4 linked regions of the Homo sapiens genome follow. The protein of the gene in region 3 interacts with the protein of the main gene of each other region in a biochemical or structural test. Each region holds a gene or a part of one and is shown on either strand. Other genes may lie near its edges.

Region 1 (7,038 bases), on a different chromosome or scaffold from region 3:
TGGGGGTACAGTGGGTCCTGCCAGGGCTGCATAGCTGAAGGTTGGAGTGTCAGACTGGAGGCTCTTGGGTGAGATAGGAGATGAAAGCTCCTTCTCTGCAGATGTGTTTCGGCCGGCAGCTGCCTCCTTGGTTGAGAGGCATGGGGGCCAATCCCCAGCTGCTCCAAGTGGAGGCTCTCTAGTGGGGCATGCAGGGCCAAGCCCAGTAAGCATCATCTGCTCATAGATGTCTGCATACTGAAAGCTTCTCTCATCAGGATAGGGTGTGGGCTCTCTCTGCTCCGGCTCAGTCTGCTCAGGCTCCGTGGTGGCATGGCTTTTGCTGGCCTCTGGTACCTTTGAGCTGTGTGAGCTTTTGTCAGGAGCCTCAGCCCTACCTTCTTCTTCCCTTTCCCCTTCAGCCTTGCGGTAGTCCTTCCCCAGGGGGGAGTATGGCCCACCTTCCAACTCAGCTGCCCCCTCCTGCACTGCAGCCACCACACTGTCATACTCGGCTGTGCCCCAAGAGAAGGGTGCAGGAGTATGGGATTCCGGGGCAGGTGTGGGGGGACCAGGAGCTGGGGAGAGGGGTGCAGGGGGGAGGGGTCTGTCCTTGGGCACCCAGGGTGGGATGTCAGCCAGCCATGAGGGAGTAGTGGGTTCATTCTTCATGTGTGGCATGAGCTTAGGGTCTGGGATAGGACTCTCTTGTCCTGGGGCTGAAGGAACCCTTTGTCCAACCATCTCAGGTGGGGAAGCTGGAGGGGAGATGATCTCAAAGGGAGAGCGGGTCAGTTTGTCCTCTTCCTCTGGTGGCAACCCAACTGGTGATTCAGCAAGCCAGCGCTCCACCTCTAGCCCCTTCTGTGGTGAGGATTCCTGGAAATCCTTGAAGTCTGAGGCCCAGGGGCTCCGGGTTGCGTGTTCCCGCAGGGGTACTTCTTGCTCATCATCTGGGCCCTCATCTAGGAAAGTGCTTTCCCGTTCCTCAGTGTAGTGTGGGCGGGCCCCCTGGCCATCCAGCTCGTGAGGGAACCAGACCTTCCGCTCACAGCTTAGCTCCCTCCAGTATGTGTCCTGTTCCAAGGCCACATCCTCTCTGCCCCTCCAATACCTATTGTCCTGCTCAGGAGATGTGTCCTCCCATGCCGGGGCAAGCTCTTTCTGTTCTCCAGCCGGCTCCTCTCTGGTAGGAGATGTTTCTTGCCACTCCTGGACCACATCCTGCCCCCTCCAGTACTTTTCTTCCTGCTCTCTGGCCCTGCCCTCCTGCACTAGGCTCTCTTCCAGGCCCAGAGCTTTGGTCTTCTCCAGAAGAGCTTCTAACTTCTCTTCCATGGCCTTGACCTTTTCTGGGGATTTTTCCTCTAGCATCTTTGGTTTCCTGGTTTTATCCTCCTGCACTAGGCTCTCCTGCTCCTGAGTTTGGTGGTTCTCTTCCAGAGCCTGAATGTTTTGTTCCAGGGCTTCATCCTTCTGTCCCAAAGCCCAGTATTTTTGTTCTAAGGCCTGATCCTTCTTTTCTGAGACTTTATCCTTTTGTTCCTGGGCCTGGTGTTTCTGTTCAGGGGCTTTGTCTGTCTGTTCTAGGTCTCTGTCCTTCATTTCAGCGACCGTGTCCTCCGGAGCCTTATGTTCAACACTTCTGACTTTTTGATCTAAGGCTTTGTCTTTCTCTTCTGGGATCTTCTCCTTCTGTTCTAGGACCCTGTCCTTTTGTTCCAAGTCTTTATCTTTTGGTTCCAGGGCCTTGTCCTTCTGTTCCAGGGCTGTATCCTTTTGTTCTAAGGCTTTGTCTTTCTCTTCTGGAATCTTATCCTTCTGTTCCAGGGCCTTGTCTTTTTCTTCTAAGTCTTTGTCTTTTGGTTCCAGGGCCTTGTCCTTCTGTTCTAGGGCTGTGTCTTTTTGCTCTAAGTCTCTGCCCTTTTGTTCTAAAGCCTTATCCTGCTGTTTCACAGCCTCATTCTTTACATGCAGAGCCTCATCTTTCTGATAGATGGCTGTATCCTTCGGCTCTACCACCTCCTTGTGCTCCAGAGTTTTGTCTTTCTGCTGTAAAACTTCATCCTTTGGCTCAGGTTCCTTCTTCTGTTCTGAGGTTCTGTCTTTCAACCCTGGAACTTTATCTTCCCACTTTATGGCAATGTCCTCCAAGGCAGGGCCTGGCAAAGACTCAGGACTCTTGGAGAAGGAGCTATCAGGTGTCAGAATGTGTTCATCAGGGCTTGTGATCGCCCCAGGTAAGTACTTCCCATTTCCTGAAGGTGTAGAGTGAGAGAATGAGCTGGCAGGTGACTTCCTGTCAAGGCTGTCATCTGTGATGTCTGTCTGTGCAGAGTATCGAGTTGTCCCATCTGTGGGAGGTGACGCTGTGGCTGCATGGGGCTCTGGAACAGACATGGGAGCTGTGTGGTGAGAGGTATCCTCGGCCTGCATCAGATGCCCCATTTCTTCCTTCCCAAGGTTTAGTTCCCCAAACTGGAGGGTGCCAAGGCTTTCTGGAGAGAGCTGCTTAGAAGAGACATCCAGGGAGGTCTCCTTGCTGGGACTCTCTTCTGACAGAGAAAGTGACTGGGTGTCTTCTGGAGATACCTCTGGCCAACGGTCTTTGTGTAGGTACTGTTCTGTCAGGCCACAGGGAGACTTGGGGGTAGGCTCTTGGTTGGCAGTGTCTGGGGAGGGCACGCTGAGGACAGAGAGGGATTCTGCATCTTCAGGAGAGAGGCTTCGGTCAGGATATCTGAGCACCTCATCTTTCTGAGGTTTGCCAGGTTCTTGGGGTAAAGTCCTCAAACCTCCGGGAAGGGCTTCTGCTCCCAGAATTGGGCCTGTGGGCTCTCCTGCCTCCATAATCTCAAAGACTATTGCTTTATCCTGTGCTGGCAACAGTTGAATGGTACAGCCTGTAAGCCCCTCATCAATGTTGACAGGTGCTTCCTGGGCCTGGGGGCTCCTGGGAGGAGGAACTTTCTCTTCCTTCTCTAGTGTGCCCTCTTCAGGCCCTGGCTTGACTGTCTCCTCAGCAGCATCTTCTTTGCCCACACCTGGTGTGCGCTTAGTGTCTCCCCAGGAGTCTGCCTCCTGAAAGTCTTGGGGCTCAGACTTTTCTTCCACTGGGGACTGATGAAAGGGTGTGTGGGTGGCACTGGGTGGGCCAGATGGTGGAGGAGAAGCCATCTTCACTGTGCTGTCATCTGGGCTAAGGCACCGCTCCTCTGCTTCTCCAAGGGCTGGTTCTCCTGGATGTAGGGCATGCCCAGGGGCACTAAACACTGGAGTTCCATATTGACTGCAAAGTTTCTCAGACATCTCTACGTTTGCTGTCTCCTCCTCTTCCTCTTCCACAGCTCTCTCTCCAGACAAGCCTTTCCCTATGATCTCTCCTCTCTTCTCTGACTCCCCAGTCACAGAGAAGTCCTCACAGGGTGGTGATTTGAAGCCCTTGTCTTCTTCCAGTGAGGAGGTGGGTGAGATGGTACCAGCTGATGGCACATAGTCCAAGCCCTGCGTAGCTTCAGTACGGGAGGAAGGGATGCTTGTGACTGTGTCAAGCAGCAGGGAGCTCTTGCCTGTCTCCTCTGTCTGGGGAGCTGTAAGTGAGGCCACAGATTGGTCCTCAGCCACTGATGTGGCAAAGGAAGAAAGTTTGTCACACTCAGTGATTGAAGTGGCCGAGGACACATGTTCCTCTTCAGCCAAAGGGGCAGCCACTATGTTAGTGGGGTAGGTGAGTTCAGTCTCTGGCGTTCCATAGACTTTGCCAGAGGTAGCAGGAACAGCACTATCGGCAGGTTGGCTGGCTTCGAATGGGCCAGCACCTTCAGGCCCGGGCAGGTCATATGTACTTGTATGAAATCTGGGTGGAGCTGGGCGCTCCTCCGGCTCATCATGGATCTCCTCATCTGAGATGGTCTGCTCAGTCTCTGAGTAGCCAGGGATTGTCTCATCCTGGATGTAAGAGACATGCTCAGTGGCTCCTGCAGGTGTGGTCAGGCTGCTTAGGAATAACGAGGTCTCCTTCTCAGGGGCCTTGCCCTGGAGTCCCAATTCCCGACCCCCAAAAGCCTCCCGGCTCCTTGGAGTTACCTTCAAGGGTTCCTGCATATGTTTTTGGTAAAAACCCTCAGCTTTTGTCGCGTCCTCTTCCTCCTCATCTGAAGGGTGTACCTCCTCCATTTCTTCTAACTCAGCCTTTTCTATCACATCCTCCTTTACTTCAGGTTCACTTTCCTCTCTGGCTTCTGTTCTGTCTGGGAGCCTCTCTGCTTCCCTCTGCTTCTTTTCCTCCCAGGTATCTTTCTCTTCCTCTGTTTCAGCCCCAGAGTCTAGGCCTCTGTCCTTGCTGCCTTGTTCCTCAGGGACCTCTGGGACAAGCTCTTTCTCCTTCATCACATGTTCTTCTTGTCCCAGCCCTGGAACAGAGGGTGGTGTTCCCTGGATAGCTGTACTTGGGGGTCCCTCCTCTGCAGTGTCTAGAGGGAATGGCTTATCTCCTAGTCCTGTGTCCCTTTGTTCAGCCAGCAAAGCCCTCTCCTCACGCTTCATCTCCTCAAAGTCCTGTGTGAGGTCCTCTGGTGAGGATAGGACCAGCTCCCTGTGCCCACTGATGGTTGGGAGTGGTACAGTTCCCTTCTGGGCTGGGGGTGTCTGGGGCTCAGAAGACAGCTCCTTCTCCCCACGGATAGCACGGCTCCTGTCTATTTTGACTCTTCCAGGGACCTTGGCTTTATAGAGGGTCTTACGTACCTCAGGAGTAAAGGGCTTTAGGTCTGGCTTGGAAATCTTCTTGAGCTCAGGTTTGGTATCTTTCCTCTTCTCCTCCTTCTTGGCATCCTTCTTCTCCTCCTTCCTTCCTTCATCCTTCTTGAGCTCTTTCCTCTCCTTTTTGATCTCTTTTTTCTCCTTGTCTTTTTTTTCTTCCAGCTTTGATATCTTTTCTTTAAGGTGCTTTTTCCCTACCTTGTCTTTGATCAGCTTTCGCTTCTCTGCCTTCAGTGCCTCACTTGACTCTGTCTTCACCCTCTCAGGCTTGGCAGGCTTCTCTGGGGGCTTCTCAGATGACTCTTTTGCCTTCTTCTCTGTCTTGGCTAACTCCTTGGCCAGCTCTGAACGTGCCTCCTTGGCTCCCTCTTCTACCACCTCCTCCCGTTTGGCCAACTTGCTCACGGCCGTCTTGGTAGTGGCTTTGAGGCTCTCCTTGCTATCAGCCCGCTGTTTGATTTTGCTGGGCTTGAGGTTGGTAGGCACAGCCCCAGAAGCCAGGTCCTTCTGCGTGGCCACAGGGTAACGCAGGAAGTCCAGATGCCGAAGCTTTTCTAGGCCCTCCAAGATCTTGTTTTGGGGAGCATTTCCTGGAAAAAGCACACGCACAATCTTCTCAGTGGGATTGGCTGGTAGCCAGACCACCAGAGCAGTGATAGAGGTAAGGTAGGGCACGGAGATCTCAGCCTCCTTCCCATTGGGCAGCACGATGCCTGTCTTGGCTTTACTATTGCCTGCCCACTTTTGCATGAGGAACTGCATCTCCTTGCTGTCCTTGACAGGGTTGAGGACATACATGTCCAGCCGGCCCACACCCATTTTGTGGAAGAGGGTCAGTGGCTCAATGGTATTGCTGACCACACGATATAGAGGCTCAGCCTGGATGCCCAGGCGGTTTAAGTGCTGCAGAGTGAGGCAGGCCTCCTCAATGCTACGCTTGGCTTTCCGGGAGGCATCAGGAAGCCGCAGCTTCTCAGGCACGTTGAAAAAGACAACTCCAAGCTCAGGAGAGATAAGGTTCTTCACCCAGTCGCTGTAACTGCTAGAGCCCTGGGACTGCTCCTCCTCTAGCTCTGCCACTTTGCGCTGCAGTAGTCCATTGATGCCTGGCAGGTTGTCTGCCCCAATGTGTGTGAGTAGCACCGAGTCAATGCGGTCCAAGTGCCGTACCAGCTTCCAAAAACAGGACTTGCGATCAGAGCCACCATCCACCAGGATGTTGAAACCATTGACAGCAAAGAGGGCAGAGTCCCCACGACCACCTGGGAAGATGTAGCAACAAGGCTTGGAGAGCTTGAGGAAGCCCCCTGAGGTGGGGGGCTCTAGTAGGTCAAATGGGGATGGCACGTCCACAGTCTCAGAGACATACTCGGAGAACTCAGCCACGCCGTCCATGGTGGGCAGAGTGGGCTCAGGGTTTAGCCGGAGGTGCAGGGTCTCTTGGGAACTGGATAATCCCAGGTGGCTCCAATCACCTTCCCCTAAGCAGGACACGGTAAGGAAGGCCTGTATCCCAGGGTCTCTATTGCTGAGCAATTGGGAAATCTAGAAGAATAGGAGATAGAAACCTGATCAGGTCACTAGAGTTGTTTTGGTCTGACTTAGATTCAGTACCCTAATCTTCACCTCTTTCCAAGGTGGACTCTTACCTTTCTGCCAGGGCCCCCCATGGTCATGCAATATGAGACTTTCCCTTAGATCCCTCCCACAGCTCTAGTGCTACCCTTTCTCCCAGACACTCTGGCATGGAACTTACCTCGGGGTTGTGAAGGACCTGGGCAAAGTTTTCATATGAGTAGGTGCCACTCTGTAGGATGAGGTCTCCCCCAGGCTCTAAACTTTGCCCACTCAAGATTAGTAGTTTATAAGCTGATGAGCTGCTAAGAAGATGATGAACCTGGAATGGAAGAAGGGGAGTGGTCACAGATATAGGAAATCCAGGGAAAGGCAATGAATGGCCCCTCAGTACCTCAAGAACATGCTCCCAACTTATGTCCCTCATAACACCTCCAGAGTGGGCTGGAGACAATACGTCAGCTTAGATGGCAGAGAGAGGAATTCTTGGCCTAATAGTGGTAGCACTGGCAAGGGTGGGTATAGCACTTGCACCAGGCCTGTTTGGCAAGGCACAGGCCCTGGCCTTACCTCAGAGCTGATGCTGTCTGCACTGGGATTTACCAGGATGATGGTCTCTAGGATCTCACTCTGGTGGCAAAGGGTCCTCTGGCCTGAGGGAGAGATGTAGGAATTTATATTGAGAATAGGTATAGAAATTGTGGTGCAGGAGAGGAAAGAATG
Region 2 (5,637 bases), about 11 Mb from region 3:
GACGTGCTCCGGCAAATCAGGTGAGCGGAGATGCCTCAGGCAGGCCTACGCCCTGCTTGTTCTGGGATGCGTGATCTCTGCGTGGCTGGCTCAGTTGTGCCAGGGCTTGGGTGAGGGTTACTTCTTCCCTCCTGCTGCCTACTGTGTTTTAGCAGAGTCTGATAGAAACAAACTCGATTACTCGCTTAGCCAAACTGAGCTAGAAGGCCTGTATTGTGGAAGAATCCCCAGCATCATCCTTCAAAAGTGAAGCTGGGCCAGGCGTGGTGGCCTGCTGCAAATCCCAGCGCTTTGGGAGGGTCACTTGAGTGCAGGAGTTCAAGACCAGACCGGGCAGTATAGCGAGACCTCATCTCTACAACATCAACAAAAAAGGAAAAAAGTGAAGCAGGCTCCTTTTTAGGAATTTGTCATAGGAAGTCCCTCTGAGGTCAGGCTTGCAGCAGGGTCGGCTGGCTGTGTTTGGGTGTGCTGTGAGCCGTGGCCTCCTGCAAAGTACGAACCCTCTGCTTTGCTGCATCCCAGGTTATGGGCGTCACTGTACAAAGATGAATACTGGCTTGGAGTGGAGTCAGCCTTCATGTCCACATTAAACTTGTTCCTTTCTTGCCTTCCCAGGTCTGACTTTGTCACCCTGCCGTTTCAGGGAGCAGAAGTCCTTCTGGACAGTGTGATGCCCCTGTCAGGTAACAGCTGAGGCCTTTGGCTTGGGGGATTGTTGGGGACAGTTGTTGAGAGTAGGTCTTTCTCAGAGCCTCCGTTCTCACCTGGAGGATTTATGCTAACATAAGTTGCTACCACTCAAGAGTTTCTGACTGAATAGGTCTGGGCTTAGGCCCAGGAACTTACATTGCTATCAAGTTCCCAGGTGAGACCAGTGCTGCTGATCCTTTGAGATCCACTGCTCTAGACTGTACTCAGACCTCAGGCATCAAGGGGCTTCCAACAAAGGCACTTTCCAGATTATAGTCCAGACCCAGAGTCTTAGCCCCGGTGGTTGAGGGCGTGCTGGTCACTGATACTGCTCAGCCAGGCCATAGCTCCATAGGGCACAGTGGGGACACCCTATCTGGTGTCTTAGACTATGAAAGCATTGTCAGAGGGAAGAGGACTGGCAAAATCTTGGGTAAATGACTTAGCCTCAATTTTCACCCCAGAACATGGGAATGGTACCTGTCTTTGATGCTGGCTGTGAGAATTACATAAACCTAAGATCTGGTGTGTAGAGGGTGGCGAAATGGCAGCTGTTTATGGCTAGGAATTTTATATTTGTAGGTGATAGTTCATCCCATCCCACTCCCTCCCCAGGTTTGCCCCTTCTGATCTCCTTCTTGCTTGTCTTAAGCGATTTGCATGCGTTAGAAATACTACAGTCTAGCTGGAGTCGGCTTAGAGGGAGCACTGGGGCAAGATCTTTGTTTTGCTTCTTTTATTGCTGTTGCCCCTCCTTCCTCTCTGCTTCTGTCCATCTAAGCGATCTGTCCAGACCCAGCTGAAACTTTCTCCTTCGTAAGATTTTCCCGGATCTTCCTTGGTAAACCCCTGTCTCTCCCATCCTTGCCACTGCTTGCCTTGGGTATGGTGTTCTATGTAACTTTTGTAATCCAGCAAAGCTGAATGCTGCCGCAGCGCCTTGCCCACTCTGAGTGGCTGGCCTTATTGGGCTGTGTGGCCAACTGCCTGGGTTTGATTCCCACCTTCACCACTTGGGAGCTGGTTGACCTTCAGGAATCCACCTTTGCCTCAGTGTTCTCTCCTGTAAAGTGGGGATAGCACTTGGTGTTACTAATTTTGTGGAAGAACACATATGCTCTGCACTGCCAGCATCCGAGTTGGTGGGGGTGGGGGTGGTGCTGCTGCTGGTGGTATTGGTGGTGGTGTTAGTGGTGAAGTTTCTGTCCATCTGTTGTCTGTGCTGCACCAGTGGGCAACATGCAGTAGCGGCCCTTAGTTTATCCACTGGGAGTCATATGGAGGCCTAGGCTCTGTCTCTGACCTGGGTGGATCTCCCCAGTGCAGTTCTCAAGTTCCACAGCATCTGAAGCATTCTACTTGGAATGCACCTGAAACTTGTGTACATGACAAGGGTGCCTTGCCTCAGTGAGAGCCTAAATGCCGCTTTTCCTTTTCCTCCTGAAGACGATGACCAGTTTTCACCGGAAGCAGATGCCGCCATGAGCGAGATGACGGGGAATACAGCACTGCTTGCTCAGGTGTGTGGTTGGCAGGGGTGGGGGAGGCAGGCTGGCTGGGTTCTTGGGAACTGACCTTTCAATGCCTTCTTTCCTGTGGCTTGGCCCTGGATTGACCAGCAGTATTTAAGGAAAGGTGCATGAAGTAGCTAATACTTGATATTAGTCTGTTCTCACATTGCTGTAAAGAAATACCTGGGACTGAATAATCTATAAAGGAAAGAGGTGTAATTGACTCACAATTCTGCGGGCCTGGGGAGACCTCAGGAAACTTACAATCATGGCAGAAAGGGAAGAGGCACGTCTTACATGATGGGCAGGCAAGAGACAGTATGTGAAGGAGGAACTGTCAGATACTTATAAAACCATCAGATCTCATGAGAACTCACTATGACGAGAACAGCATGGGCACACCGCCTCATGATCCAATCACCTCCCACCAGGTCTCTCCCTCGACACATGGGGATTATGGAGATGACAATTCAAGATGATATTTGAGTGGGGACACAAAACCTAACCATATTATTCTTTCCACCCCCCTTCTTCAGGTGACAAGTTACAGTCCAACTGGTCTTCCTCTGATTCAGCTGTGGAGTGTGGTTGGAGATGAAGTAAGTTCTGCCCTTCTTTTCCTTCTGTGTTGCTGGCCCGAAGTAATGGATTGATTAGGAGCTGGTCCTGGGATTTGTTTCCTCTTGAGTTAATCAGAGGATATAACTGTAGACAAGCACCTCCTAGGGAACACTTTGGATGTCCTGATTGGCAGTGGTGATGTCAGTGTCCTCTAGTGGGTAGAGGCCAAGGATGCCACTAAACATCCCATAGTATTCAGGACAGCCCCCCACAGCAAATAATTATCCAACCGCAAATGTCAATAGCGCCAAGGTGGAGAAACCCTGTGCGAGACTTTCTGGGACCTTCTGTCTGTTGAGTTTTTCTGTCCTCTATCTTATGGTATGAAAGCTTAGATTTCTTCAGCATATTAAAAAGCCTATCCTGGCCAGGTACAGTGGCTCACCCCTGTAATCCCAGCACTTTGGGAGGCCGAGACGGGCAGATCACTTGAGGTCAGGAGTTTGAGACCAGCCTGGCCAACATGGCGAAACCCCCATCTCTACTAAAAATGCAAAAATCTGCTGGGTGTGGTGATGCACACCTGTGATCCCAGCTGCTTGGGAGGCTGAGGCAGGAGAATCACTTGAACCTGGGAGACGGAGGTTGCAGTGAACCAACATTGTGCCACTGCACTCCAGCCTGGGTGACAGAGCAAGACTCTGTCTCAAAAAACAAAAACAAAAACAAAAAAACCCTATCCTTATGCCACAGCAGCCAACAGAATACTTAAATAAATGTTCCTGTTGGCTAGAGCATAAGCCATGTCCCCCACCCTGTTACTCTTTTTTTTTTTTTTTTTTTTGAGACAGTCTTGCTCTTGTTATCCAGGCTGGAGTGCAGTGGCGTGATCTTGGCTCACTGTAACCTCCGCCTCCGGGGTTCAAGCGATTCTGCTTCAGCCTCAGTAACTGGGATTACAGGTGCCTGCCACCACACCTGGCTAATTTTTGTATGTTTAATAGAGACGGGGTTTCACCATGTTGGCCAGGCTGGTCTCGAACTCCTGACCTCAGGTGATCCACCTGCCTCAGCCTCCCAAAATGCTAGGATTACAGGCATGAGCCACTGCGTCTGGCCTACACTGTTACTCTCATACATCTGTTGCCTGCAGTGGCAACCGGGGAGGGGAGAACTCATGTTGGCTAGGGAGATGGCCCCAGGATGCCATGGACAAAAGCTTTAAGGGAACTTTCTTTTCTAGGTGGTGTTGATAAACCGGTCCCTGGTGGAGCGAGGCCTTGCCCAGTGGGTAGACAGCTACTACACAAGCCTTTGACCCCCATGCTGCTTCCTGAGAGTCTTTTTTTGCACTGTTGAAATTGGGCTTGGCACTCAAGTCAAAGATGAACATCGGAATAACAAACATTGTCCTCTCCAGAAAGTCCTTTCTTTCTCCATACTGTAGTCCTATTGAGAAGACATTTCGTCTCTGAGAAAAAAGGATGGAACTATGGGTTCTCTTCGCAAAGCCAAAGGATAGTGTTTAACAAGCCAGCTGGCTTATGCTGGTTCTCAGCTGTTTAAAAAAAAAAAAAAAAAGGAATAGAAACAGTTTCAACCAGATTGTCCTATTCCCCCTGTTCCATTCCCCTCTTCTTCCTTCTATCTCCTTCCCCGGCAAAAACCAAACAAACTGGCAGACAGGCCAGGGATGTATGTTGCTTGCTTGAGAGGGTTTCTTTTACTTCAAAATCTTTCTTCAGGGAGCAAGACATGAACTGACTAATTGGTATCCACTACTTGTACAGCTTACATAAATGAGTTGATGATATTTAACCAGTTTTTATAAACTTCATTTAGGTCTCTAAACACAGACTTTTTAAATTGCAACTGTAAATATGAAATGGTCATCACATCTGACCTTGGTCAGTGGGGAGGGGAACTGGTATCCTGCCAAGCCTGGTTGTAATTTGTAACCATTTTCTATTTGTGCAAACTCTGTAAATATGTGTTTAAACAAATGTAATATTTTGTACAAGATACACTGGAGAACAAAGGGAACTCAAGATTCTTCCAGCCACATGTCACCTGTAGGTAGAAGTAAACTCTGCAGTGCAGCTTCTGCTCTTGGCCCCTCTGGCCAGGGCCCCTGTGGCTTCCTGCACACTGGACAGGTGACTGTATGGTAGAGACTGTGATCTGGGAACTTTTTGCTGTACAAATCTGTTTAAAAAAAAAAAAAAGTAACTCATTGAATTAACTTGCAGTGGTGTGTTTGATTCTTTTTTAGACTGGCTTCAGCATTGTGCAGTTTAAAAATAAGTAAGTAACTTACATAAATCTTCAATTGTATGAACTGCAGCTTTGAGTCCATTTTTTTCCAGTGGTGAAGAATTGGCGGGGGGGGGGTGGTGAGTGTGGCGAGCTGGATCACAGGCCCCACACAACTGCCTCTGCAGGAGACCCATGGTTTTTTGAAGACAATTTGGCCAGAAATTTCTATCTGGCCTTTTCCTCTCTCTCCTTGTCCCACCAGGTGGCAGCCAAGCGTCCTCCGACTTCTTCACTGCATGTTAACTGGCCAGACTCAGTTTAAAGCACTGGCTTCCAAAACGGGTTGTGCCTTCTTTGGTTGTCATTCTTAATAGATTCGTGAAGTTATTTAATTTACTGTAGTGATAAGAATGATGTAAAAAATACATGTAAGTTATGGGATGAGATACTGCCTCAATTTAATAGCCCCTGCTCTTAAAGAAGGCTGGCCACTGCAGCCCAGGCCTACCCCAGTGCCCCGCCCCTGCCCCCTACGTTTGAGGCCTCTGGCTGCAGGGCTGTTGAGCTTGAGCTCTAGTTTTTAGAGAGCTGACGTAGCCTGAGGGTCATTCTGATT
Region 3 (4,540 bases):
GCAAACTGAGCTTAGGAGTTCGAGACCAGCCTAGGCTACATGGCAAAACCCCACCTCTACTAAAAATACAAAAAACTAGCTGGGTGTGATGGCACACATCTGTAGTCCCAGCTATTCCAGAGGCTGAGGTACAAGAATCACTTGAATCTGGGAAGCAGAGAGGCTGCAGTGATCATGCCACTTCACTCTAGCCTGGGTGACAGAGTGAGACCATCTTAGATAGACAGATCGATAAATAGACAAATAGACAGATAAAAACGTACCTTTGGGGACAAATTAAATGGTTATCTAGCCATTGCTTCTTGATGTTGTCTTAGCCCATCTAAACATACACTGCCAGGGCCTAACATAAGTACAAAAGGTTCAGCTATTATTTGTGGTTAGAGATAAAGTAGTATGAAGAAAACTGACATGCTACTTCAATTTTTAAATGTCAATATTTAAATCATTAAAAAATAAAAGAAACAAAAAAAAGAGTCTACTTGGGCCACTGTTTAGAGAGAATTCAACTATAACCAGGACTGTCAACCCAGAGAAATTTTCTTTAGTTACATTTTATTGTGACTCTAAAGGTTTCATACTCCAGAGGACGGGGGGAAGGGATTACTGAATCTAGAAAAGGTACACATGTTCAAAGCAACACAATTTAAAGAATGCTCTTCTAACATACAACATATCTCCAATTTCACTGGATGTGAAGAAATACCAATACACTAATGAATACAACTTAATCATCTCACTCCTCAGAAATCTAAGAGCATCAGAAATAAGGCTTTATATATGAGGCTTTATATATGCAAAATATAAAAGTATCCCTAAGTAACATTAAATGTATATATTAAATTTAAACCAAAGAGTATGCTAATCTAGAAATGATGTTTCCCCATTAAGTCTGGGAAAGTTCCAAGGCCACAGAACCAATCTGTCTTCAATCAAAAGGAAATCTTTAGCTTTTGACTGAATTTTTTTCTTTCCATGACTAAGTAAATAAATCTGCTACATCTCAATTACCCTTTAAGCAAGATTTTGAGATCCACTCTTTGACAAACTGAAAAGCACTGAAAATAAACATTGCTCTTTCAAAACACCGATCCCATAATTCACTTTCCCCCTTTTCATTTTTGCCCACCCGAGTAGACTTTCGGGGAAGGACAGAGAGAGGAAAGACGGAAAGGAGAAAGGGAAGAAAAACTGATTCATTTAAGAATTTAAATTATTTCATCTCTTTTTATTACTTGACCTACCATTAAGACAATCTATAACAAAAAAAGTATATTAGCACACATGGTATAATCAGACTGGTAATCAGGAAGCAATACAAAACGGTCCTTTGGCCATCTATACTTTCTAGAGCAGTAAATCTCATAAATTCACTTACCAAGCCCAGGAATAATGACTTTTAAAGCCTTGAATATCAACTAAGACAAATTATGCCAATTCTGATTTCTCACATATACTTAGATTACACAAAGATAAAGCTTTAGATGTGATCATTGTTTAATGTAGACTTATCTTTAAAGTTTTTAATTAAAAACTACAGAAGGGAGTAAACAGCAAGCCAAATGATTTAACCAAATGATTTAAGAGTAAAACTCACTCAGAAAGCATTATACGTAACTAAATATACATGAGCATGATTATATACATACATGAAACTGCAATTTTATGGCATTCTAAGTAACTCATTTAAGTACATTTTGGCATTTAAACAAAGATCAAATCAAGCTTTAAGCTTGTAAGAACGTAATTTTCATTTTTAATTTTTTAAATATAAAAAGGTAGCTAAACACAAAGTACAGATCAGAAACCCTCATTTAATATAGATTATTTTGGAAATTAAAAAATTTGTAACAAGGTGGCTTTCTTACCCACCCTAAAATGTAAATAAAACCTCTTCCCCAGATTTATACTTCATACTTGGTAACAACCTAAAAGTTTTTCAAATCTATGAAAAAAATCTACCATGACCAATTTAAATTACCTGGGAAAGGGCAGGAGAAGGGATCAATAACAGAGTCAGTTAGTTGCACACAGATGGAAAAATGCTTGCAGTCACTCCCAAATATAACCCTACATTACCTTATATATAAATCACAATGAAAATAAAAGTGCCTACATTACAGAACTGTGAAATTTTGTTTAAAAAAATAATAAAAATAAACTGTTGGGTATCATTGGAATAATGTAACACATAAGGCTGGAAAATACTGAAATACAGTTAAGACTCAATACACAAGTTTACTTTAAAAAAGAAAAGAAAGAAAAGTTTGCCAGAGAAATAAATGCTAGATAGGAAAGCAGGACTTTCAGCAGGATAGCCTTTCAGACCAATTTGAAGCAACACAGACACATTATACCCTACCATCAACCCACCAGAAATTCTAGCTGAATAAAAAGGAAGGAAAAAAAGACTAAACCAAAGTAAAAAACTTCTTCCAAAATCTCATGCCCCAGTGAATGTCACGGGGAAAATTCCCGACACTGAACTTTGTCCGCCTGGCATTTCTCCCTTTAGCAGCATCACCTCTATTTCTCTGTTAGGACATTTGCTCCATCTGTATCTAGTCACAGCAAATCCAATCTCCTGGAATCAGTTTAATGAGCAGAGGAGATTATACTGGAGTCAGCTGAAGGACATACTTTAACCAAACGCTCTAAATTAACAACCAAGAATGTAGACCTCAAATTCTTATTCTCAATTCAGCATCTGATCAATTATTTGGCACTAGCTGGATAAAGGTCTAATCGGAATTTGTGAGCCGAGGCAGATGTAGTTAAATACTAACCAATATTTGCAATCTATGAGTTAGTTTCAAACTTAAAAGGCAGGTATAGATAGCCATACTCAAAAGTATTTCAGAATTGGAGAAGAAACATTAATAACAAGATATAAATAAAACCAGGCAGATTAGCTTGGCAAACAACAACTCTGGAAAAAAAAAAACTGAACCAATCATATCCCATTGATAATTAGCAAAAATGGGCATTTTTCCACCCTTAAACTAGTTTAATTACAGGCAGATGTCTTTCTACTATACTAAGATTTTCTATATCCATTTTCCCTAATCTTTAGAGTTTAATGAGAAACCATTTATTCTACAAAGAAATACAGCATATATGGCCACAGTCTAAATACGCTTATAACTGGACAATTATGTCACTTAAAAAAAAAATCTTGCACTGTTACATCATTACTCTATGGTAATTCAATAGGTGCTGGGATCTGCCCTCACCAAAAAGCATGGCACTCACTGCCCAGGGTGAATACTAACACTGCACAAAGAGAAGCAGTAACAGCAAAGTCTCCATAGAACTCTTTCTATTTATTTAACTGTGTATGAGCATTTAGTTAATGCTCCAAATTGAAAATGGTGCAATAAAAGCAACTTTCAATATATAAACAGACAGGAAGCTGCGATGCCAGTGGCCACTTGGCGCTGCAAGTAGGGAAAATAAAGCAGTTTGCATGAGTGAAGCATGGATTGGGGAGAGGAGAAAAGGGAGGCACAGGAGGCAGATTTCAGACAGACAGTGACACAAAACTGTTGTACTGCTGGATGTTTCGTTTGAGGATGTCTGAGCATGGGCCAAGAACACGTTCAAATCTAGGTCGGTCCAGCTTAACGCACTTCAAGGGGCCACGAGCAACAACTGTGGCAGCACGAGGACGATTCATCAGTAGTGCAATTTCACCTGGAGAAAGCAAAGATGGGTAACAGGCTAACTTCTATGAAAAACATTTCCTTAAAGCAGTGCACTTCTGAGAAAGAAGACAATAGATATGAGACAATCAGTAATTTCATTAAATGAGTAAAGATCAAAATCTCACACCTTCCCTCTCAGAGCCAAAAAAGACTGCAGTTAGAAAATAAAATTCAGGAGAAGACAAAATTATGGAAGACTACAATATCTCACTGAGAGGTGACTTAAAGAAACCATGTATTTATTGTGAGGGAATTCATACATACCAAAATAATCAGAAGGCCCCAATCTTCCCACTTCAACAAACTCTTCATTTTCTGACCGACGTTGTAGCACAGCAGCTGACCCCTATAATAAAATCACCAAAAAGCTAAACAAACACACACTCTCAAACCCAGGGTGGCACCTTAAACATCCTATGCAATTTTAACTACCTTGCAAATGTGTGCATATGATAAAAAATGACTTTAAAGTTAGTCACCACATGAGCTTCAATTTCTATTTTACCAGCATCTCCTGCTAGCGAGGTTCTTCGTATCAAGCTAAGGTGCTTAAAGGGTGCACACTTGGGTTAGCAAACTGTAGATGAAGGGCTAAATCCAAGCTCACTGTCTCTTTCGCAAATCAAACTTTACTGAAATACCACATACATTCATTTACATATTATTTGTGGCTGCTTTTGCACTATGACAAGAGTTGAGACTTTGCGAATGAAACCCTATGGTCCACAAAGCTTAACTTACTTACCACCTGGCCCTTTACAGTCTCCTGACCCCTGATTTAAATAAAATCAATTAGCAACTATGGAGCCACATTCATAGAAATCTGCCACTTGGAT
Region 4 (7,038 bases), about 49 Mb from region 3:
ATGGAAAAAGAGGATGCAGTGAATATCTTACAATTCTGGTTGGCAGCAGATAACTTCCAGTCTCAGCTTGCTGCCAAAAAGGGCCAATATGATGGACAGGAGGCACAGAATGATGCCATGATTTTATATGACAAGTGAGTTATATTGATAGATGGATTCAGCAGATACTTATTGAACATTTGATATGTTTTGTGGAAATAAAGATGAATAAACTCAGTCTCTGTTGTCAAGGAGCTCACAGGAGGCAGCATAAAAGCTGCTTTTATATGGTGTTTGTAAAGCTTTGGGGGTTCTTAGAACAAAAGTTTCTGCTGGGAAAGGGGAGGTGTATGTGGGGTAAACAGGATGGCAATGGTGGTGTTCAAGGAGTGTTTCCCAGAAGAGAGATTTTGTTTGGATCCCAAAGAAAGAAGGGAATTTTGCTACCCAGAGAAGGCAGAAAACAACATTCTAGGCAAAGGCATTGGCCCAGAAGCCATGGAAACGTAGGGGAAAGTGGCACTTTCAAGAAACTTGAGTTTAGATAATCAAAGGAGTGGGGAATAAATATGAGGATGCTGGTACTAATTGGAATAGATTGTAAGGGACCTTGAATGCCTATTTATGGGTATATTATACTTTCTGTATAAATCTGCTCAGGCACGTTGTTAATTAGTTTTTTATTAGTTTTCACTGAAAATGAGAGGATGGAAACATCATACAGTAAACAAAATTGAAAATATCTGGTCAGGCAGATGATGAGCTTGTGGCCAGCTCTGTAACGTATGGTATTCTTTTCATTTAACTTTTCTTACTCTGTAAAAAAAGTAATTCGTGGTCGGGCACGGTGGCTCACTCCTGTAATCACAACACTTTGAGAGGCAGAGGCAGGTGAATCGCTTGAGCCCAGGAATTTGAGACCAGCCTGGGCAACATGGCAAAACCCGCCTTTACTAAAAATACAAAAATTAGCTGAGCGTGATGGCGTGCGCCTGTTGTCCTAGCTACTTAGGGGCCTGAGGCAGAAGGATCACCTGAGCCTTGGGAGGTCGAGGCTGCAGTGAGCTGTGATCCACTGTACTCCACCCTGGGCAGGGCAGTAGAGTGAGACCCTGTCTCCAAAAAAAAAAAAAACAACAAAGGTAATTTGTTATTTGTATCCTTAAGCAAATGCTAAAGGGGTAACTTGGGGATAGAGAAAAGTCCACAGATGTTAGGGTTTGAAGACACTAATAGTATCTAGGCCAGTGGTTCCTGAACATTAGTCTGTGGGCTCTTGCTGGGCTGTCTGCATAGGAATCACCTGAGAGCTTATTAAAAATAGGTTTTCAGGCTGGTTGCGGTGGCTCACGCCTATAATCCCAGCACTTTGGGAGGCTGAGGCAGGCGGATTACTTGAGGTCAGGCGTTCAAGACCAGCCTGGCCAACATGGTAAAACCCCGTCTCTACTAAAAATACAAGAATTAGCCAGGCATGATGGCACACACCTGTAATCCCAGCTACTCAGGAGGCTGAGGAAGGAGAATTGCTCGAGCCCGGGAGGTGGAGGTTGCAGTGAGCGGAGATCATGCCACTGCACTCCAGGCTGGCTGACAGAGGGAGACTCTGTCTCAGAAAAAAAAAAAAAAATAGGTTTTCAGTCTGGGTACCGGTGGCTCACACCTGTAATCCCAGCACTTTGGGAGGCCAAGGCAGGCAGATCACTTGAGGTCAGGAGTTTGAGAACTGCCTGGCCAACATAGTGAAACCTTGTCTCTACTAGAAACTACAAAAAATTAACTGGGCATTTTGACGGGTGCCTATAATCCCAGCTACTAGGGAGGCTGAGGCAGGAGAATTGCTTGAACCCGGGAGGCAGAGGACTGCATCTCAAAAAAAAAAAAAAAAAAAAGGTTTCCAGTCCCCCTGTCTCAGAAATTCTGATTCTGCAGGTTTGAGGTGTGACCAGGAATCTTTATTTTTAGAAGACATACCAGATAATTCTGATAAATAGCCAGTTTAGGGATGTAGTCTAATTTTCCTATTTTGCAAGTAAGGAAAATAAGGCCCAGAGAGGTAATGATTTTCTCAAAGTCACAGAACAAGTTAGTGGCAGAATTTGGACTGGAATGCAGTTCTTAATGTTCTGTCCAGTGTTTATTCTGGTACAGTATGTTTGTAGAAGGTATTACGTAAGAAACATTGTTATATAGATGTTGAGATAGGAAGAGTTTACATTTAGAAATTTGGTCTAAAATGCCTGAACATTCAAGTCGTGGAGGAGTATTGACCAACTTACTCAATACAACATAGGAGATTCACATTTTGTTACAAAAATGCTGATTTAAAAGGAGAGTTTTCTTTTTTTTCTTCTTTTTTATTTTTTGAGATGGAGTCTTGCTCTGTCACCCAGGCTAGAGTGCAGTGACACGATCTCAGCTCACTGCAACCTCCACCTCCTGGGTTCAAGCGGTTCTCCTGCCTCAGCCTCCTGAGTAGCTGGGATTACAGGTGGGGGCCACCACGCCCAGCTAATTTTTGTATTTTTAGTAGAGACAGGGTTTCACCATGTTGGCCAGGCCGGTCTTGAACTCCTGACCTCAAGTGATCCACCCACCACTGCCTCCCAAAGTGCTGGGATTATAGGCGTGAGCCACTGTGCCCAGCCTGCTTGTTTTTGTATCATATATATGCATCATCATAATCATGCATTATCAACCTTTGTATTTCTGTCAGGACATAGAAACCATTAGAGTGCTTGGAAGAGAGCCTTTTTTTTTTTCTCGCATTTAATGCTTTTTTTGGTATTCATTTCATAATCAGCTTACCAAAACATTACCTGCATTATACCCCATCAAGGTAGAAATCTTTGTGTTATCAATATTGGTTACTCCCTTTCCACACCGAGTCATCAGTAAGTCCTGTTCTATCCAAATAGGTCATATGCATCTAGCTCACCCCTCAGTGCTGTTTTGTTTTGAATTTGTACATGTTTACTCCTGATGCCTTGTAGTTATGATGATGTGTTCTTATTTTATTCTGTGCATACAAGTTCTCAGCTCGCTTTTTAGGGAAAATGACCATGTCTTCCTTTCCTATAAATTCCTTTCTATCTATCAAGTCCTCAACAGAGAATAGGTACCCATAAATATGTGATTGTTAGTTTCTTTGCCTCAGTTGTAGTCTGATCCTTACAGCTTTTAAACAACAGTAGAGTTCACCGTCAAGAACTAAGGATGGTTGGCAGGCAGATAGAAAGGTAGCAAGTTGACCCAACTATCTCTGGGGAAGTGGGAACAAAGAAAGGTTACATCAGCACTGTCATCACATAGCTCTATAGTTCTAGGCCTGCAGGCTCAATCAAGTAGCCTTGTATAAGATTCTCTGGAGGAGGTGCTGAAAGTTGCTTATACTTGCTATGGAATTTGATTTTACTTCGGATATCTTTTTACCATAGGTACTTCTCCCTCCAAGCCACACATCCTCTTGGATTTGATGATGTTGTACGATTAGAAATTGAATCCAATATCTGCAGGGAAGGTGGGCCACTCCCCAACTGTTTCACAACTCCATTACGTCAGGCCTGGACAACCATGGAGAAGGTAACCCAGAACTTCAAACGTATCAAACTACAAGAAGTTTTATTGGTAGAACTCATAAAATATAAGGTGGGAAAACCAAGCAGAATAGCACAGTGGAAATTGAAGCAGTCCAGCAAAGTGATTAAGAGCAGAGGCCTTGAGTCTGGCCTGGTATGTACAGTCACGTGCCACATAACATTTTAGTCAACAGTGGACTGCGTGTACGATGGTCCTGTACGATTATAATGGATCAAAGCTGGTAGTGCAATAATAACAAAAGTTAGAAAAAATAAATTTTAATAAGTAAAAAAGAAAAAAGAAAAACTAAAAAGATAAAAGAATAACCAAGAACAAAACAAAAAAAATTATAATGGAGCTGAAAAATCTCTGTTGCCTCATATTTACTGTACTATACTTTTAATCATTATTTTAGAGTGCTCCTTCTACTTACTAAGAAAACAGTTAACTGTAAAACAGCTTCAGACAGGTCCTTCAGGAGGTTTCCAGAAGGAGGCATTGTTATCAAAGGAGATGACGGCTCCATGCGTGTTACTGCCCCTGAAGACCTTCCAGTGGGACAAGATGTGGAGGTGAAAGAAAGTGTTATTGATGATCCTGACCCTGTGTAGGCTTAGGCTAATGTGGGTGTTTGTCTTAGTTTTTAACAAACAAATTTAAAAAGAAAAAAAAAATTAAAAATAGAAAAAAGCTTATAAAATAAGGATATAATGAAAATATTTTTGTACAGCTGTATATGTTTGTGTTTTAAGCTGTTATGACAACAGAGTCAAAAAGCTAAAAAAAGTAAAACAGTTAAAAAGTTACAGTAAGCTAATTTATTATTAAAGAAAAAAATTTTAAATAAATTTAGTGTAGCCTAAGTGTACAGTGTAAGTCTACAGTAGTGTACAATAATGTGCTAGGCCTTCACATTCACTTACCACTCACTCGCTGACTCACCCAGAGCAACTTCCAGTCTTGCAAGCTCCATTCATGGTAAGTGCCCTATACAGATGTACCATTTTTTATCTTTTATACTGTATTTTTACTGTGCCTTTTCTGTATTTGTGTTTAAATACACAAATTCTTACCATTGCAATAGTGGCCTACGATATTCATTATAGTAACATGTGATACAGGTTTGTAGCCCAAAAGCAATAGGTTGTACCATATAGCCAAGGGGTGTAGTAGGCCATACCATCTAGGTTTGTATAAGTACACTCTGTGATGTTAGCACAATGGCAAGCAGCCTAACGGAAATTCTGTTTATTGATTGATTGATTGATTGATTGATTGAGACAGAGTTTCACTCCATTGTCCAGGCTGGAGTGCAGTTGCACAGTCTTGGCACACTGCAACTTCTGCCTCCCAGGTTCAACCAATTATCCTGCCTCATCCTCCCAAGTAGCTGGGATTACAGGCAGGCACCACCATACCTGGCTAATTTTTGTATTTTAGTAGAGACAGGGTTTCACCATTTTGGCCAGGCTGTTCTCGAACTCCTGACCTTAAGTGATCTGCCTGCTTTGGCCTCCGAAAGTGCTGGGATTACAGGCATGAGCTACCATGCCTGGGCAGTAACTGAAATTCTCTAATGCCATTTTCCTTATCTGTAAAGTGACGATAATATGCACGTTTACCTCAAAGTTACTTTGATGATTAAAGTAAGGTAATGTATATAAAATACATATTAACATAGTACCTGACACATGGTAAGCATCAAAAAATGTTAACTACTTTTATTACTATTATTATTACGTATTTTTAAATAATTAGAGAGCAGTATCAAAAATTAGCTGGGCGTAGTGGCATGCACCTATAGTTCCAGCTACTCAGGAGGCTGAAGCTGGAGGATTGCATGAGCCTGGGAATTAAAGGCTGCAGTGAGCCGTGTTCATGCCCCTGCACTCCAGCCTTGGTGACAGAGCAAGACCCTGTCTTGAACAATTAAAGAAGGCATTATGCCGCAACGTTAGCTTAGAAATGATCCACATATATCACCAGTAACTGTCAACAGGATTGGAACCCTAGTTTTGGGTATTATGATCACAAGGTATTATTAATAGCTTATTAATAATAAAGCGTTGGCTAGGCACGGCGACTCACATCTGTAATCCCAGCACTTTGGGAGGCCGAGGTGGGTGGATCACCTGAGGTCAGGAGTTTGAGACCAGCCTGACCAACATGGAGAAACCCCATCTCTACTAAAAATACAAAATTAGCCGGGCGTGGTGGTGCATGCCTGTAATCCCAGCTACTTAGGAGGCTGAGGCAGGAAAATCTCTTGAACCCGGGAGGCAGAGGTTGCAGTGAGCTGAGATCGCACCATTGCACTCCAGCCTGGGCAACAAGAGCAAAACTCCGTCTCAAAAATATAATTATAATAAATAAATAAAAGTAAAGTATTGATGTTTGTGAATGATTTATTCTTCTAATGAACTAGAGGAGATTTTTCCAGGAATTTCAGAGCCAGTGAGGTTATGTTGCTTGTATGTGTCATGTGTATCCAGGTGAAAAAACTTAATTAAACGCTATTATATAATACCATACATAAAAACTGAATTTTAGGAATACTGAAGAATGACATATAGAAGTCAAATCATTAAATAGCTAGTAGTAAACAGAATAGAGTGTCAGCTGTTACCCAATGATGATAATATTTTCACGATTAAAATTAAACCTTTTCTGATTTTAAAGGAAAAGTTCAGATCTGTATCATATAAAGAATGTAAATTTTCAGGGTAATAAAATTAAAATGCAGAGAGAAAAATGCAAAAATAGTTCTTACTAGATGTGTGTATGTAAGGAACTTAGACTAATTTTAAGAACACTGTCAAGACCCTGGTAGTTAGGTAGGAAAAAAGACATGAATGATTCATTCAACAAAAACTTTGAGTATTTCTGTGCTAGATGGTAGTGTTACAGTGGTAAACAAAATAAATGTGTTTCTGCTATCCTGGAGCTTAGTCTACAAAAAAGGTACATATTGGCCGGGCACGGTGGCTCACGCCTGTAATCCTAGCACTTTGGAAGATCGAGGCGGGTGGATCACCTGAGGTCAGGAGTTCAAGACCAGCTTGGCCAACATGGCGAAACCCCGTCTCTACTAAAAATACAAAAATTAACTGGGTGTGGTGGCGGACACCTGTAATCCCAGCTACTCGGGAGGCTGAGGCAGGAGAATCACTTGAACCTGGGAGACAGAGGTTCCAGTGAGTCGAGATCATGCCACTGCATTCCAGCCCGGGGGACAAAAGCGAAAATACGTCTCAAAAAAACAAAAACAAACAACAAAGGCACGTATTAAATACGAACATAAATATTTACAAATTATACTGAATAAGTTCTCATGTTTATTATTTGCTTGTCCAGTTACAAACTTTTCCTTCGTAGAATTAGAAATATAAATAATAAACATGAGAACTCATTCAGTATAATTAATAATTATTAAATGTAAATAAAAACATCTATGTACAATTAGGCATTTATTTAAGAATT

Evidence for each region.
Region 1: of the proteins of PRKAR1A (region 3) and MAP1A, one has a biochemical effect on the other in vitro, tested with the Homo sapiens proteins (one study listed by BioGRID).
Region 2: the proteins of PRKAR1A (region 3) and AKAP1 form a complex in vitro, tested with the Homo sapiens proteins (one study listed by BioGRID).
Region 4: the proteins of PRKAR1A (region 3) and AKAP10 form a complex in vitro, tested with the Homo sapiens proteins (one study listed by BioGRID).

The regions. Positions count from the first base shown.
Region 1 is NC_000015.10:43,520,571-43,527,608, reverse strand, and holds part of MAP1A (microtubule-associated protein 1A), read right to left. Parts: intron 6,969-7,038; coding exon of another isoform or gene 6,886-6,968; intron 6,638-6,885; coding exon of another isoform or gene 6,497-6,637; intron 6,286-6,496; coding exon of another isoform or gene 6,136-6,285; coding exon 1-6,135. UniProt on the Homo sapiens protein: Structural protein involved in the filamentous cross-bridging between microtubules and other skeletal elements.
Region 2 is NC_000017.11:57,116,242-57,121,878, forward strand, and holds the end of AKAP1 (A-kinase anchor protein 1, mitochondrial precursor), read left to right. Parts: coding exon 1-20; intron 21-618; coding exon 619-686; intron 687-2,139; coding exon 2,140-2,213; intron 2,214-2,740; coding exon 2,741-2,803; intron 2,804-4,008; coding exon 4,009-4,083; 3' UTR 4,084-5,103; downstream 5,104-5,637.
Region 3 is NC_000017.11:68,529,430-68,533,969, reverse strand, and holds the end of PRKAR1A (cAMP-dependent protein kinase type I-alpha regulatory subunit), read right to left. Parts: intron 4,051-4,540; coding exon 3,969-4,050; intron 3,694-3,968; coding exon 3,521-3,693; 3' UTR 539-3,520; downstream 1-538. UniProt on the Homo sapiens protein: Regulatory subunit of the cAMP-dependent protein kinases involved in cAMP signaling in cells.
Region 4 is NC_000017.11:19,932,809-19,939,846, reverse strand, and holds part of AKAP10 (A-kinase anchor protein 10, mitochondrial isoform 1 precursor), read left to right. Parts: coding exon 1-134; exon of another isoform or gene 135-217; intron 218-3,416; coding exon 3,417-3,561; intron 3,562-7,038. UniProt on the Homo sapiens protein: Differentially targeted protein that binds to type I and II regulatory subunits of protein kinase A and anchors them to the mitochondria or the plasma membrane.